Homo sapiens: one gene and its partner. The protein of the gene in region 1 binds, or shares a complex with, the protein of each later gene. Each region holds a gene or a part of one and is shown on either strand. Other genes may lie near its edges. A codon is read from its position in the direction of its gene.

What was found. The genes of interacting proteins can lie anywhere in the genome.
Region 2: the proteins of CYBC1 (region 1) and CYBB are in contact, whole or in part, in a cryo-EM structure (PDB 8KEI), measured with the Homo sapiens proteins. Residues at the interface, in NP_001028218.1 of Homo sapiens: Arg22 (codon at 6,164), Leu26 (codon at 6,176), Ala37, Ser41, Gly42, Asp43, Trp47, Phe50, Tyr51, Phe57, Gln61, Asn62, Glu64, Lys77, His97, Asp98, Gln99, Val100, Val101, Val102, Leu103, Arg108, Ser111, Glu115, Val117, Arg118, Tyr119, Phe120, Arg129, Ala131; in NP_000388.2 of Homo sapiens: Trp28 (codon at 1,185), Asn74, Leu75, Leu76, Ser77, Phe78, Leu79, Arg80, Gly81, Ser82, Ser83, Ala84, Cys85, Cys86, Trp206, His210, Phe212, Pro266, Met268, Trp270, Lys271, Ile273, Tyr280, Tyr324, Phe326, Lys328, Leu335, Glu336, Trp337, His338.

What each region holds. Positions count from the first base shown.
Region 1 is NC_000017.11:82,447,598-82,455,354, reverse strand, and holds the start of CYBC1 (cytochrome b-245 chaperone 1), read left to right. Parts: upstream 1-4,602; 5' UTR 4,603-4,655; exon of another isoform or gene 4,656-4,875; intron 4,876-5,100; exon of another isoform or gene 5,101-5,924; intron 5,925-6,062; 5' UTR 6,063-6,100; coding exon 6,101-6,185; intron 6,186-7,733; coding exon 7,734-7,757. UniProt on the Homo sapiens protein: Functions as a chaperone necessary for a stable expression of the CYBA and CYBB subunits of the cytochrome b-245 heterodimer. Controls the phagocyte respiratory burst and is essential for innate immunity.
Region 2 is NC_000023.11:37,775,423-37,783,308, reverse strand, and holds the start of CYBB (NADPH oxidase 2), read right to left. Parts: upstream 3,251-7,886; 5' UTR 3,232-3,250; coding exon 3,187-3,231; intron 1,222-3,186; coding exon 1,126-1,221; intron 1-1,125. UniProt on the Homo sapiens protein: Catalytic subunit of the phagocyte NADPH oxidase complex that mediates the transfer of electrons from cytosolic NADPH to O2 to produce the superoxide anion (O2(-)).

The DNA.
Region 1 (7,757 bases):
TAGCTTTTTTGTTAATGTTTTACAAACATAACTGGCCAGGTGTGGTGGCTCACGCCTGTAATCCCAGCACTTTGGGAGGCTGAGGTGGGTGGATCACCTGAGGTCAGGTGTTTGAGACCAGCCTGGTCAACATGGTGAAACCCCATCTCTACTAATAATAGAAAAATTTGCTGTGTGTGATAGTGGGTGCCTGTAATCACAGCTACTCAGGAGGCTGAGGCAGGAGAATCACTTGAACCTGGGAGGCAGAGGTTGCAGTGAGCCAGCACCATGCCATTGCACTCCAGCCTGGGCAACAAGAGCAAAACTCCATCTCTAAAATACAAAAAAAAAAAAATGAAATAAAAACATAAGTGTAATATGTTTGAAAGAACAAATTACGGCCGGGTGTATTGGCTCATGCGTGTAATCCCAGAACTTTGGGAGGCCAAGGTGGGAGGATTGCCTGAGCTCAGGAGTTCGCAACCGGCCTGGACAACATGGTGAAACCCCATCTCTAATAAAATACAAAAAATTAGCTGGGCATGGTGGCACGCACCTGTAGTCCCAGCTACTCAGGAGACTGAGGCAGGAGAATTGCTTGAACCTGGGAGGCAGAGGCTGCAGTGAGCCGAGATTGCATGACTGTAGCCTGGGCAACAGGGCGAGACTCCGTCTCAAAAAAAAAAAAAAAAAAGAACAAATTATAATCACTTAATTTTTTTTTTATCAAATAGCCAATGTCCAGTTTTCCCCATTGTCTCATATTTTTTTACAGTTTGTTTAAATCAGGATCTAAATAAGGTCTAGTATGTTTTAATAGTCTATATTACAATTGGTTCATATGTTTCTTAAGTCTCTTTTTCTATGAACTTACGGAAGACATTGAAAAGTCTCTCTTTAAAAATAAAAACTTGTTCTCCCTCTCCCTCTCCTCTCTTCTCTCTTCTCTCTTCCCACAGTCTCCCTCTGTTGCCGAGGCTGGACTGTACTGCCGTGATCTCGGCTTGCTGCAACCTCCCTGCCTCGGGCTCCCATGATTCTCCTGCCTCAGCCTGCCGAGTGCCTGGGATTGCAGGCATGCGCCACCACGCCTGACTGGTTTTTGTATTTTTGGTGGAGATGGGGTTTCGCTGTGTTGGCCGGGCTGGTCTCCAGCTCCTGACCTTGAGTGATCTGCCCGCCTCGGCCTCCCGAGGTGCTGGGATTGCAGACGGAGTCTCTCTCACTCAGTGCTGCCCAGGCTGGAGTGCAGTGGCGTGATCTCGGCTCGCTACAACCTCCACCTCCCAGCCGCCTGCCTTAGCCTCCCAAAGTGCTAAGATTACAGCCTCTGCCCAGCCGCCACCCTGTCTAGGAAGTGAGGAGTGTCTCTGCCCGGCCACCCATCGTCTGGGATGTGAGGAGCGCCTCTGCCTGGCTGCCCCGTCTGGGATGTGAGGAGCGCCTCTGCCCGGCCGCCACCCTGTCTGGGAAGTGAGGAGAGCCTCTGCCCGGCCGCCACCCTGTCTAGGAAGTGAGGAGAGCCTCTGCCCGGCTGCCACCCCGTCTTGGATGTGAGGAGCGCCTCTGCCCGGCCGCCCCGTCTGGGAGGTGAGGGGCGCCTCTGCCCGGCCACCCCATCTGGGAGCCTTTCTGCAGGTGTACCCAACAGCTCCGAGGAGACAGTGACCATCGAGAACGGGCCATGATGACGATGGCGGTTTTGTCGAAAAGGAAAGGGGGAAATGTGGGGAAAAGAAAGAGAGATCAGACTGTTACTGTGTCTGTGTAGAAAGAAGCAGACCAAGGAGACACCATTTTGTTCTGTACTAAGAAAAATTCTTCTGCCTTGGGATGCTGTTAATCTATGACCTTACCCCCAACCCCGTGCTCTCTGAAACCTGTGCTGTGTCAACTCAGGGTTAAATGGATTAAGGGCGGTGCAAGATGTGCTTTGTTAAACAGATGCTTGAAGGCAGCATGCTCGTTAAGAGTCATCACCACTCCCTAATCTCAAGTACCCAGGGACACAAACACTGTGGAAGTCCGCAGGGACCGCTGCGTAGGAAAACCAGAGACCTTTGTTCAAGTGTTTATCTGCTGACCTTCTCTCCACTATTGTCCTATGACCCTGCCACATCCCCCTCTCTGAGAAACACCCAGGAATGATTGATAAATACTAAAATAAATAAATAAATAAAATAAAAACTTGATTTTGACATAACTTGAGGCGTACTTAGAAGTGGCAGAGTTCAAGCTGGGCATGATGGCTCATGCCTGTAATCCCAGCACTTTGGGCAGCCAAGGCAGGTGGATCATCTGAAGTCAGGGGTTTGAGACCAGCCTGGCCAGCATGGCAAAAGCCTCTCTCTACTAAAAATAAAAAAATTAGGTGGACGTGGTGGTGTGTGCCTGTAGTCCCAGCTACTTGAGAGGCTGAGGCAGGAGAATTGCTTGAACCGGGGAGGCGGAGGTTGCAATGAGCTGAGATGGTGCCACTGCACCCCAGCCTGGGCAACAGAGTGGGACTTTGTCCAGAAAAAAAAAAAAAAAAAAGTTGCAGAGTTCCTGATCTTAAAGTTGTCATTTTTCAAATTTGTAGGTTCTATCCATATCCTTCTCTTTGTATATATCATTTTAAAAATCAGGTCATTTGCCTGTAGGATTTCCCATGTTGTCAAAAAGAGTCAAACTGAAAAATATTTTAAGAGATTCTGAACCAAATATGAGTGACCAAGGGCCAGCGACACAGCCCTTAGGAGATCCTAAGAACACGTACCCAAGGTGGTTAGGCTACATACATTTTTGGAAGACATAAGACAGTCAATACACGTAGATGTACATTGGTTTGGTTCAGAAAGGTGTGGCAACTTGAAGTGGGGGGGCTTCCAGGTCATAGGTAGATTCAAAGATTTTCTATCTGGCAATTGGTTGAAAAGGTTAAGTTACTGTCTAAAGACCTAGAATCAACAGAAGGGAGTTTTTAGGTTAAGATAAGGGTTTGTGGAGACCAAGATTTCCATTAAGCAGAGGAAGTCTCCAGGTAGCAGGCTTCAGAGAGAATAGATTGTAAGTGCTTCTTATCAGAGTTCTCCCTGAAGCAGGAAAAAGACCTGGAAAGGAACGGGGATTCGCTACAGAATGTAGATTTTCTTCACAAGGGACAGCTTTGCAGGGCTATTTCAAAATAAGTCGAAGAAATTTAATGTGGGGTAAAGTACTTCCATTTCTTCCAAGGCTTCCTATCTGTCATGTAGTCCTATACCAGAGTCAGGCTGGAATTTGGCGTCATTGCTACAGAGTCTACTTTGTCAACTTCAAGATCTGTTTTTGTTTTGTTTTGTTATTTTTTATTGAGATGGAGTCTCACTCTGTTGCCCAGGCTGGAGAGCAGTGGCACGATCTCGGCTCACTGCAAGCTCTGCCTCCCGGGTTCACGCCATTCTCCTGCCTCAGCCTCCCGAGTAGCTGGGACTATGAGCACCCGCCACCACGCCCAGCTAATTTTTTTGTGTTTTTAGTAGAGATGAGGTTTCACTGTGTTAGCCAGGATGGTCTCAATCTCCTGACCTCGTGATCTGCCCACCTTGGCCTCCCAAAGTGCTGGGATTACAGGCGTGAGCCACCGCACCTGGCCACCTCAAGATCTGTTTTAATGTGAATGCTGGTCAGCTGTGTGCCTGAATTCCAAAAGGGAGGAGGGAGTGAGGTATGTCTGTCTCCCCCTTCCCATCACTGCCTGAGCTAGTTTTTCAGGATAACTTGGGAATGCTCTTGGCCAAGCGGAAGGGTCCATTCAGATGGTTGAGGTTTCGAATTGCTGACTGTATCCTTGTAGAATCCTTTAGTACAGTCTTGTCTTCCACATTTCCAGTAATTCACTCTAGAAGCTTGTTCACATTCAGGTTAAATTTTTTCTGGCAAGACTACTTCATAGTGTTGTGTACTTCTGATATCTAACTGACCTTTTTGCGATGTTAATTAGCAGTCATTGATGACATTGCCTAGGTCCGTTAATTCATAGGGTGATGTTTTAATCCTACTGTTTCTTCTTCATTTATTAGCGGGAAAACTTCTATAATGAGAAATTCTTCTCATGCAGTATTTGGTTACTCTGCTGTAAATTTCATAAAGGCAGGACAAATGCTTGATGCTTTCCTTTTATTAACCAGGCCACAAACTGGGGTGAGCTTACCAGCATCCTCCAAAGGTGAACAGAGTTAAAAAATACATTATTATGAATTACAGACTGGAGCATCTGAGGATTTTAAATTCACTCGAATTCCTGTTCTTATTCATGCTCAAATCTTCTTTTTTGGCAATGAGAACCGCTTCAGTTTCGCTTCTATGTTAGCAAGACGTTCATAGTCCTTGGTAAGTTCTTTGCTGTCGGATACGTTTCCCCGCACGTTTCTTTTTTTCAAGAAAACTGGCTTCTTTAGCAGGAACCACCCGCCTCCTCCTGCGGCTCCGCCCGGATCCCGGAAATCCGCTCGGCTCCGCCCCATCCAGGAAATGCTTGCGGCCCCGCCCCAATCCCGTAAGCGCGCGCGGCCCCGCCCCCAATCCCGGAAGCGCGCGCGGCCCCGCCCCCGAAAGTCGGCTCGGCTCCGCTCCAATCCCGGAAGTGCGCGCGGCCCCGCCCCCGCCGGTTCGCGTCTCTCTGCTGCGGCGCGGGGACCGCTGTGCTCTCGGTAGGCGGCTGGGCTGGGTGGGCTCCGCACTTCCTTCCCGCTCCGTGCCGCGCGTCCCGGCACCCTTAGGCCCACTCCGGGAGGGGTCTGCGTCCTGGGCCCGCCTGCCGGCTGTTCCGTGTCCCGCCGTGCCCGTCGCGGGCGGCCTCGCGCCTGTTCCGCTGCAGGTTGGCCCCGGCGGCGGGAGCGCCCCCGATCCGGACAAAGAAACGAGCGCTCGGTGCGACTAGCGGCGCGGGCGGCTTTGCCAGCGCGCGTGTGCTTGTGTCCGCGAGTGTGCGTGTGTGTGTGCATTTGGATGTGGAATGCCGGGTGTTTCGGGAGCAATGAGGCAACTGAGGCCCGGGAGGGAGCCCAGTCATATACCAGCATCTAGGATTGGTTTGTGTGATTTGAACCCACTATTTTTTATTTTTTTGAGACACGGTCTCACTCTGTCACCCAGGCTGGAGTCCAGTGGCACGATTTCTGCTCACTGCAGCCTCCACCTCCCGGCCTCAGGTGATCCTCCCAGCTCAGCCTCCTGAATAACTAGGACCACAGGCGTACACCACCACACCGGGCTGTTTTATGTATTTTCTGTGGAGACGGGGTTTCGCCACGTTGCCCTGGCTGGTCTTGAACTCCGTGACTCAAACAATCCGCACGCCTCGTCCTCCCAAAGTGCTGAGATTACAGGCCTGAGCCACCGCGCCCAGCCTGAACCCCCTACTTAATGTCAGAAATTTGATTTGACTTCACAGGGAAAGCCCTGAGAAACTACCAGAACGGGGTCCCTGGGGCCAGTGTTGGGAGCGTACGGTGAAGTGGCAGGGCTGCTGCGCCCGTGCGGAACTCCGCTGTGGAAGATTAGCCCCTTTGGTGACTCGTCGGTTCTGGCCGCTTTGGGACCCTCTACTGTGCAGTCTGAACTTTCAGCAGGTGGAGGAGGGCAGAGAGAGAGCTGAGATCGTTGGTCCATGCCAGTGCGAGAGCCAGTACGGCCGGAAGCCATGATGGGACTTTCAGTTCCTTTCTTGGTGGAGGCCAGCACAGGGGAGAGGGGGTGCCCACAGATGCTAGAAGCTTAAAGGCTGCTGGGGGCTAGCGGCCTCAGGACATAAGGTTTCCAGACAGGACGGGGCAGGTGGTGATGCAGCTGTAGCTCGTGAGTCTGAGCGGGAAACAGCCCCCGCGCAGTCGGTGTCGCTGTGAACGGAAAAGGGCCTTCCTTACACAGGAAACGGGGTCTCTGGGGGATCCAGTGACGTGCCCAACCACAGAGACCAGGTGAGACTGGCTGATGGTGTCTGGGGCTGCAGGTGACTTAGTTGGGGGACCTGCTCTTGGCCTCCAGACTGGGCCTGATGGCGTGGGCGCCTGCCTGTGTGCAGGCCCAAGGGCTCAGCTGCCTCTGTCTGTTCCCAGACCCCTCCTCCTGTAGAGAGTGGTGCTGCCCTCTCGGGATGTACCTGCAGGTGGAGACCCGCACCAGCTCCCGCCTCCATCTGAAGAGGGCTCCAGGCATCCGGTCCTGGTCCCTGCTGGTTGGTAAGGCTCTCCACGTCCCTCCCCAGAACCCCAGAACCGGAAGCCTGACTTTCAAAAAGGATGAAAATGAAACAAAATATTTTCTCTTTTTTCTATTACCTTGAAATCTAATGGCTATTTTGTTTCTTTGTATCCATTCAAATTCTATCTGGTGTACTTGGTTTTACAGATAATGCATGTCTGTTTTGTCCCCTTTTAATCACTAACACCCAGCGTATTTAATATACTCTATGAGCTTTTCTGAGGTCACCATATTTTCCTTTGTACTTGTTTTGAACCACGTGATGGGTGATCGTGGGTTCCCATGTCTCCTCCTCCCTGGTCCTCAGACCTCTTCGTAGGACTCACAGTCCACTAACCACGTGATGGGTGATCGTGGGTTCCCATGTCTCCTCCTCCCTGGTCCTCAGACCTCTTCGTAGGACTCACAGTCCACTAACCACGTGATGGGTGATCGTGGGTTCCCATGTCTCCTCCTCCCTGGTCCTCAGACCTCTTCGTAGGACTCACAGTCCACTAACCACGTGATGGGTGATCGTGGGTTCCCATGTCTCCTCCTCCCTGGTCCTCAGACCTCTTCGTAGGACTCACAGTCCACTAACCACGTGATGGGTGATCGTGGGTTCCCATGTCTCCTCCTCCCTGGTCCTCAGACCTCTTCGTAGGACTCACAGTCCACTAACCACGTGATGGGTGATCGTGGGTTCCCATGTCTCCTCCTCCCTGGTCCTCAGACCTCTTCGTAGGACTCACAGTCCACTAACCACGTGATGGGTGATCGTGGGTTCCCATGTCTCCTCCTCCCTGGTCCTCAGACCTCTTCGTAGGACTCACAGTCCACTAACCACGTGATGGGTGATCGTGGGTTCCCATGTCTCCTCCTCCCTGGTCCTCAGACCTCTTCGTAGGACTCACAGTCCACTTAGCCTCCCGTCCTCCATCGCTACCCACCAGTAGGGTCCTGTACCCTTGGGGACAGCTGCACTTGTGTTGACGGGACACCGTGTGAGGAGTGGTGCTGGCTGTACCTCAGCAGCTGGGGCCCACCTTTTTTGTGACACGCCACAGCCTCCTGTGTGTTTTGCATGACACGCTGTGTTGTAATTTCTTTGTGCACAGTCTTCAGGCCTCACCACGTGCTACTGGAGTAACACCCGTGTCAGTTATGGAGCCTCACACAGCAGATGTGTCTAGTAAATACTGTGAATAGCGTATACTGTGTTTTGCTTTTGTTTTCTTTAGTAATGAGGTCTCGTTATGTTGCCCAGGCTGGTCTCAAACTCCTGAGCTCAAGCGCTCTTCCTTCCTCGGCCTCCCAGGTAGCTGGGATTACAAGTGTGTGATACTACGCCCAGCTATACTGCATTATTGAACCAGCTTCCTGGCTGTTTCCCCTACTCTGAACCTGGTGGTCTGTAACCCCTGACCACAGCTGTTCCTACAGTGGGAAGGGCCTGCTCATCAGGGGCTGTGGCTCCTGGTCCCGCTGCACCAGGGAGGTGGGGTCTTACCGGGATCAATAGGCAGGCAGTCACTTTCTCTTCATAGGAATCTTGTCGATTGGCCTGGCTG
Region 2 (7,886 bases), on another chromosome or scaffold:
GAAATTGACCTTTTGCCCTAATTCAACATTTTATTATTAAAATGTTCAAACATAAAGACAAGTTGAAGGAAATTTACAATAAATACCTGTTTATTCATCTCCCAGATTATACCTTTTATGCTTGCTTTATCACATTCTATCTATCCATTCCTGTATCCATCCATCAACTCATCTAATTTTTGATGCATTTCAAAGTAAGTTACAGACAACAGTTCACTTTCTCTTTAACACTTAAGGTGCATATCATTAACTAGAGTTAAGTATCAAGACTTTTAAAGATTTTAAATATTTTCTTAGCACTTAAATTGATCTTAACAGTATCTTAAATTGGTATGGTATAATGCTTTGGCATTATAATTATTATATTTGTAATGTCTAAAGAAGTTGCATATTTTGGCGGGAGAAAGCATCAATGTGAATAAGCTAACAACAATTATAATGATCTAGCATAATTATATGCTAAAATTATTTATTTATGATTTATAATACTTATAATAATTAATATTAAGCAATTAATTCATAGTTTCAGCATGATGTAACAGATGTCTTCTGGAGGCAAGAGGCCTGACAGTTCAAGGAAACTCAGAATACTAAAGGACCCAAGGAAACTGAAGGGCCTTCACTCTACTGTCCTAGTCAACAGATGTGGCCCTTGAGCAAGTTCCTCGAGTCTTTATATGTAGAGAGAGATTTATTTTCTGAAGATCATTTCATAACATGTGATTAGGAGCAGAGCTCTTCATGCAAAAAAGTACTAGGAATTAGGTGACTTAGAAAATATGGAAAGTCCCACTTGTCCCACATGTGTCACTCCTGGATGGATTGCTCCAACCTGCCCTTCCATTTCAGAGTGAGTATTAGATTTCTCCTTTAAGCTAAACAATGGCACATGGTTCTTGGTTGGGGAAGGATGCCACTGGGGCCCTCTGCCCCACTTTTGTTGGTCCCAGACTGGAAGGCTTTAAGTGACTGTTGCCCAGGAAGTTGCAATGGAGGGAGTGAGGCTAATGGTACTGTTTGGGTTGGTCAGAATATGTATTTAAAATGCTAACAGGAAGATGAACAAGAATGTCTGATGAGAAATGTGAACCAGCCAATATTGCATGGGATGGAATTTATACTTACCCCAAGAAGTTTTCTTGTGTAAAAGAACTTAGGTGGAATATCATAAACCCGGTAATACCAGACAAAGAGGAAGACGTTCAACCCCAGCCAAACCAGCTGCACAAACAGAAATAATTGCATGAAGTTTCCGCATTTCCACAGTAGATTCCACACAAGACTGGAGTCAGATAAGGGTCAGGACTTCCCCAAGTCCAACTTTGACAAAGGTAGTGACAAAGCTGGATATAACCAGCTTAGAGCCAGCTCTTTCCTCAACAGTGTCACTACACTTGTCTATAATTAAAACCTCTCCACCCTGTGTTGTTCCCCATGATTGTTTTATGATTTGGCCAGTATACCAAATTATCAGTCTTACATTACCCCACTCCCTTTTTTTCCCCTCTCTTTTGCTTAACCTTGGATAGGTAGCTGATAGCAGGCCACTCCACTTAAAATGAGAAAGGAAGGGAACATATTACTATTGCTTTCCCTCCACCAGTATGACACTGCGTTCTGTTCTCACAGGTGCTAATCACCTCCCTCTACCACACAGTAATCCAGCTAGTGAATTCTCATCAGCTAAAATGCCAAGCCTTCCATTTTCCTTGATTAGTTTTACTTAATGCTTCAAGGAGAGAATATTGAGCATAGTGAGGGGCTTGGGATTTACAACAAAAACAGCTTTCTAGATCATGACAGTTCATTTTATCCTAAGCACTGACTGGATCAAGTGGTCACACTACCCAGTTCTCTACCTTCAGCTCCATAGTGATCTTTTCTCAACTATGCTTTGAAGCTATTATATGCTCTAGACACTTGATAATATTCTCTCTTTACAAAGAAAAAAGTGCTAAAGCAACTTCCCAATTTCCTGATCTTGTCATTCTTTCTTTACTCTGACTTTCCAAGCTGTGTTTTCACTTTCAAGTGCATGAGTATATAATTTAGAAGGAGGTCATTTCCTGGGAAAAATTGTGGCGAGAGCTAAAAGTTTAATTTGAACTTACTTTCTATAGAAATTATTTGCCCTTAAAAATGGTGATAAGAAGTTAAGTTTACAGCTTCGAATACTCGGAAGAATTCTCTGTTGCAGTAGAATGTTGGTTTGGCGTAAACATTTTTTATAACAAAATATTTGTTGTTTTTATTTGTGCCACTAATTGCTTTCTATATTTAAAACTCAAAGACTCATTATTTTTCATGATAAATTTTTACAAAAGCTCCATTCATATTCCATTCATAATTGTACTTTTTAACATCTGTGTAATGCTTCTATTGGTTATTTAGAAAGGCTATTTAAAAATCGTATTTCTATCTACCCAATTTGTCCATTATTGCTTTGCTGATAACACCATTTTAAGAGAACAGTTGATTTTCTTTGTTTTAAAAAGTACAGAAATCATTCTGTCCACTTGTAAATTAGCTATATCTTTACTTACATAGTTTCTCCAGACTATATTGATTTATATATATATACAATTATATATAAATATACATACTACATATTTATGAATCTAGATGACTTATTTCAATTCTGTTCTTTTGAATTTTTATAAATCTTATAAATAACTCAAGTTTAGATCTCTGAAAAAAGAAGGTACTTGTTTTTGAAAATAAATTTGAGAAGTTTTATTATATTTAGTGTAATTACTGAAATAAAGGCCTACTTCCCATACATGAGTCAATCTTATATTTTTTATTTAGAAAATGGTATAAAATTTCAATTTGTCATTTTTAAAGTAGTATAAACACATAGACATGTGCGTCTGAGTAAACATTACTAAACAACTCAGAATCAGAGATCATTAGCATGAAATATTTTCTACTCCTTCTGCGAAATGCTGGCTAATTTATTCCTCCTAGGAATTCAGAAGTAAGCTAGAAGTGAGCCCCCAGATATGTTCTTTCCATTAAGGAATTTGGAAGAATGGACTCAGTCTGTTTACAGATAGATATAGGTTCACATGGTAAATCAGTTTCAACACAATTCCTCAAATGAACAAAAAAGCTTTGGTCTATTTTAGTTCCAAGATAACCCCGAGAAGTCAGAGAATTTATAACTTATCTCTTGTTGGTACTTACAATGACAAAAATGGAGAGCCCCTCATTCACAGCCCAGTTCCCCATGGTGGCAGAGGTTGAATGTGTTGTGTTTGCCTTTCTTCTATACTATGCTTCTTCTTCCAATGAGGAAATGAAAACAGCAGCCCTGGGGCAATCGGTTTCCTTTTCTTTTATCAGAAATTGGCTAATAATCATTGGTCAACTGAAAAGCTTGCATCCATAACAAACTTAAATCTTTAAACCTCAACAACTACAAAAAAAGGGTCTATAATGATCCAGTCACAATTAAACATAGTGGAAAATGAAACCAATTTCTACAACTAAGAGATAAATAACAGTGCATTTTAAGGGATGTATTTTACACAGTGAAATAACTTTTTAACTAACCAGCTATTTGATCACAATTTTTAAGCCACTCAACTAGACATGACTTCGTGCTGGGTAAAACACATTAAACAGGTGTGATTTTGACAGGCTGGAACAGCATTCATAGCCTTGCTGAGAAAAGTAGTAACAATTGTAATGGTTGATATTTACAAAATGCTTAATATGTGCCAATTTTATGTGCTATATATGTCTATATATGTGTGTGTGTATGTTCATGTATAGCTATCATATATATATATATATATATATATATATATATATATATAATTTGAAACATACATATATAAATACAGATGCTTTGGCCAATGATGAACCACATGTATGACAGTGGTCCCATAAGATTATAATGGTGTTGGCCAGGCACGGTGGCTCACGCCTGTAATCCCAGCACTTTGAGAGGCTGAGTGGGGTGGATCACTTGAGGTCAGGAGTTTGGGACCAATCTGGCCAACATGGTGAAACCCCGTCTCTACTAAAAATACAAAAATTAGCTGGGCATGGTGGTGGGCACCTGTAGTCCCAGCTACTCAGGAGGCTGAGGCAGGAGAATCACTTGAACCTGGGAGTCAGGTTGCAGTGAGCCGAGATTGTGTCATTGCACCCCAGCCTGGGCGACAGAGCAAGACTCCATCTCTCTCTCTCTCTCTCTCTCTCTCTCTCTCTATATATATATATATATATATACATATATATATAATATATAATATAATATATAATATATATACTTGTGTGTGTGTGCTGAAAAATTCCTACCATCTAGTGACATTGTAGCATAACACATTACTCATGTGTTTGTGGCAATGCTGGTGTAAACAAACCTACTGAGCTGCCAGTTGTAAAAGTATAGCACATACAATTATGTACATTACATAGTACTTGATAGTAAAAATAGATGACTATGTTACTGGTTCATTTATTTACTAGACTATACTTTTAATCATTATTTTAGAGTATACTCCTACTTATAAAAAAGTTAACTGTAAAAGAATCTCAGGCAGGTCCTTCAGAAGGTATTCCAGAAGAATGCATTGCTGTCATAGATGACAGCTTCATGCATGTTAGTGCCCTTGAAGACTGTCCAGTGGGGCAAAATGTGGAGGTGGAAGACAGTGATATTAATGATCCTGACTTTGTGTGGGCCTAGGCTAATGTGTATGTTTGTGTCTTAGCTTTTAACAAAAATGTTTTAAAGGTAAAATATAAAAATAAAAAATTTAAAAACAGAATAAAGCTTCTAGATATGGATATTAAAACATTTTTGTACAGCTGTAAAATTTTTTTTGTTTTAAGCTTAGGGTTATTACAAAAGAGTCAAGAAATTAAAAAAGCAAAAGTTTATAAATAAAAAGTTACAGTAAGCTAAATTTATTTCATTATTGAAAAAACAAAATGTTTTGCATATTTAGTATAGCCTAAGTGTACAGTGTTCATAAAATCTATAGGAGTGTACAAAAATGTTCTAGGCCTTCCTATCCATTCACCACTCACTCACTGACACATAGAGTAACTTCTAGTTCTCCAAGCTCTACTCATGGTAAGTGCCTTATACAGGTGTACCATTTTTAATCTTTTATACTTTATTTTTATTGTCTATTTTCTATGGTTAACTATGGTTAGATACCATTGTGTTAGAATCTCTGACAGTATTCAGTACAATAAAAAACGATAAGGTTTGTAGCCTAGCAGCCATAGGCTATACCATGTAGCCTAGGCGTGTAGTAGACTATACCATCAGGTTTATGTAAATACACTCTATGATTTTCACACAACAACAAAATCACCTAAGGATACATTTCTCAGAACAAATCCCCCATAGTTAAGTGATATGACTGCATATATGTGTGTATTACACATATAGACACACATGCAAACACACACACATCAATTCATTTGATCCTCACAACTCAACCACTGTAAAGCAGATTCTATTATTATGATTATATTTACAGATAAGGAAACTGAGTTCCAGAGCAGTTCAGTTACTTGGCCAAGTTCACATAACTAGCAAATAGTAGAGTTGGGATTTAAAACCCAAGAAATTTGGTTATACTTTTGACCAAGATACTAGAAAAAAGCCTTACTATGCCTACACTAAAAACCCTACATTAAATCACTCCACATACAACTATAGGAAAACATGACAAAATACAAGAAATATACCAAAATGTTTAGATGGCAATCATGTTTCCAGGCAAACATGACATCCTATATGCTAAGTGAGTAAACAGGGTCAGCACAAAGATATGTCAGATATGGTAGATGCCAAAAGCTAAATGTAGCATCATTTCCCTTGTTGGTACCCACTCTTCAAGACATGAAAGAGACAGGAAGGTAGGATAGTAACCCCATTATGAGATCAATATTGACTAATTGCACAAGGGTAGTTGTACAGCAGTTATAGCTAATATGGAGGTAAAAAAAAAAGAAATGGGAGGAGTGAAAGGGAACAAAAGAAGGAAAAAAAAGACATAAGTACTCTTTTGATTGTTGTCCATGAACTACTTGGGAAGCTTCTGTAATTACGATAATTAGCAAAGTAGTAGTGTTTTTCACTTCTTAATATTCAAGGAAAGGTACTTTTTAGAATGCTATGGCTCTTAGACCATGTGTAAACCACATAAAGAGAAGTTAGTCTCGTGGTTCTGTTCCACACAGAGATGAATTCAAAGAAACACACTTAGACAATTAAAACATGTGCCAATTATTTGCCTCTTGCTCTCAGGTCTATTCCCCACTTTCCTTGCTCTACTGTGTTTCAGAGAAAATTGTATTGCCAGGCTCCTTGGCCCTCTGGCTTCTAGTATGTTTAGCTGAATTGGAGAATGGATAGCAGGAGATAAGCCATAGTGTTTCTTCCCTGAGCTTTCTGCTTTAAGTGGCATCCATGAAGGGGCTGCATCTGCACTGAGGCTCCAACTTTCACCAGTCAGCCTCTCCCCCTGTGGCATGAGCTAGTCCTAGCCATCACCACTGTAGCTCAAGATTCTGCCAGGTGGCCCTGGCTTCTGAACTCAAGTTACACCACCACCTCCTAGTTTCCCTCTAACCCCTAGGGTGGTAACCACTTCCTGTAGTTGTTCATCTTTATATTATGTTGCCTCTGCACCCCATGTTGGGATTCTCTACTTTTCCATAATCCATGTAACAAATTTCCTGGTATGAAATTCCCCCTGTTGAAATACAGTGGTTTCTGTTTTTTGACTGAAACAAAAAAGTTACTCATATCTGTACTTATTTTTTTCATGTATTCAAAGAAGTGAGGCCTTTATACCCAAAGAAAAATAAAACATATTTAAAAATCCACTTTCTCTCCTCATCTCTGCCACTCTCAAACTCCTCTACAAAGATGACTGCTTCACCATAAGCTCTTGGAACTCATCAGTCTTTTCCTCTGTACTTATCCCCACTGTTCTCTTTCTCTGCCTATTGGATCATCTTCCTTTATCCCACTTAAATTTTCAAGCCTTTCTCATACTTTTCCACCTGCCTCCTGAAGCCTGTGCTCTGCTGGGGAGGCAATGACAAAGGGATCATTAATCTGCATATACCAGGAAATAACATTCCCAGTTTCACATAAACTTATTTCTTGAACATTTTCCCACTCCCTTTCCTTCCCTCCATAATTTGAGAAGAAAATTCAAAAAAGAAAGAATCTTTTCCCTGAGTAATCAACCATTCCATTCTACTGATTTCCCCTCCCCCCCGCCTTTATAAAAGTAATCACAGGGCTATGAGTAGCAATTTCTTGAGAACCTTAAGCACCTCAATCAGTTTTACAGTGGGAGAGAGAGAGATCAGTTGCAATGAAGAGTAAAGTCTTTCTTTTACAGAAAGTTACTAACTTCCCTTTTGAGAACACTGGCTAAGTAAAATGTAATGTGCACTGCTCTTAGAAAGGCAGGCAGAAAGTTTGATGAAAGAGTAACAGGTATTAGTTGAAAGGCATTGACTAGACATGGAGATGAAGAAAACTGAACCTGTATGCATTAGCTAACAGTTTATCTTCTCCCACCCTCATTGGCTTTCATTCTCTCCTAAGCTGTTAGTAGCAAACTAGACTGTGGTGAACATAAGGAAGTACTCACCATACCCATTATGCAGTAATGTCCAATATCCTCACACTTGTGATTGAAATCCCAAACATCTCTGGTTGAGAAAAAAATGAGAGAAGAGAAGTAGACCCAAATCCAGAAAATTCCCTGATTTTGCAGTCTAAGATTTATTCTTGAAAGCTTAAATTAAAAATTATATTCCTCTGCAATAATCAAGTAGTCTATAGAGTTTAATCACCATTATTCTAGTTAATTAATTTGGCACTGTGAGAAACTGAT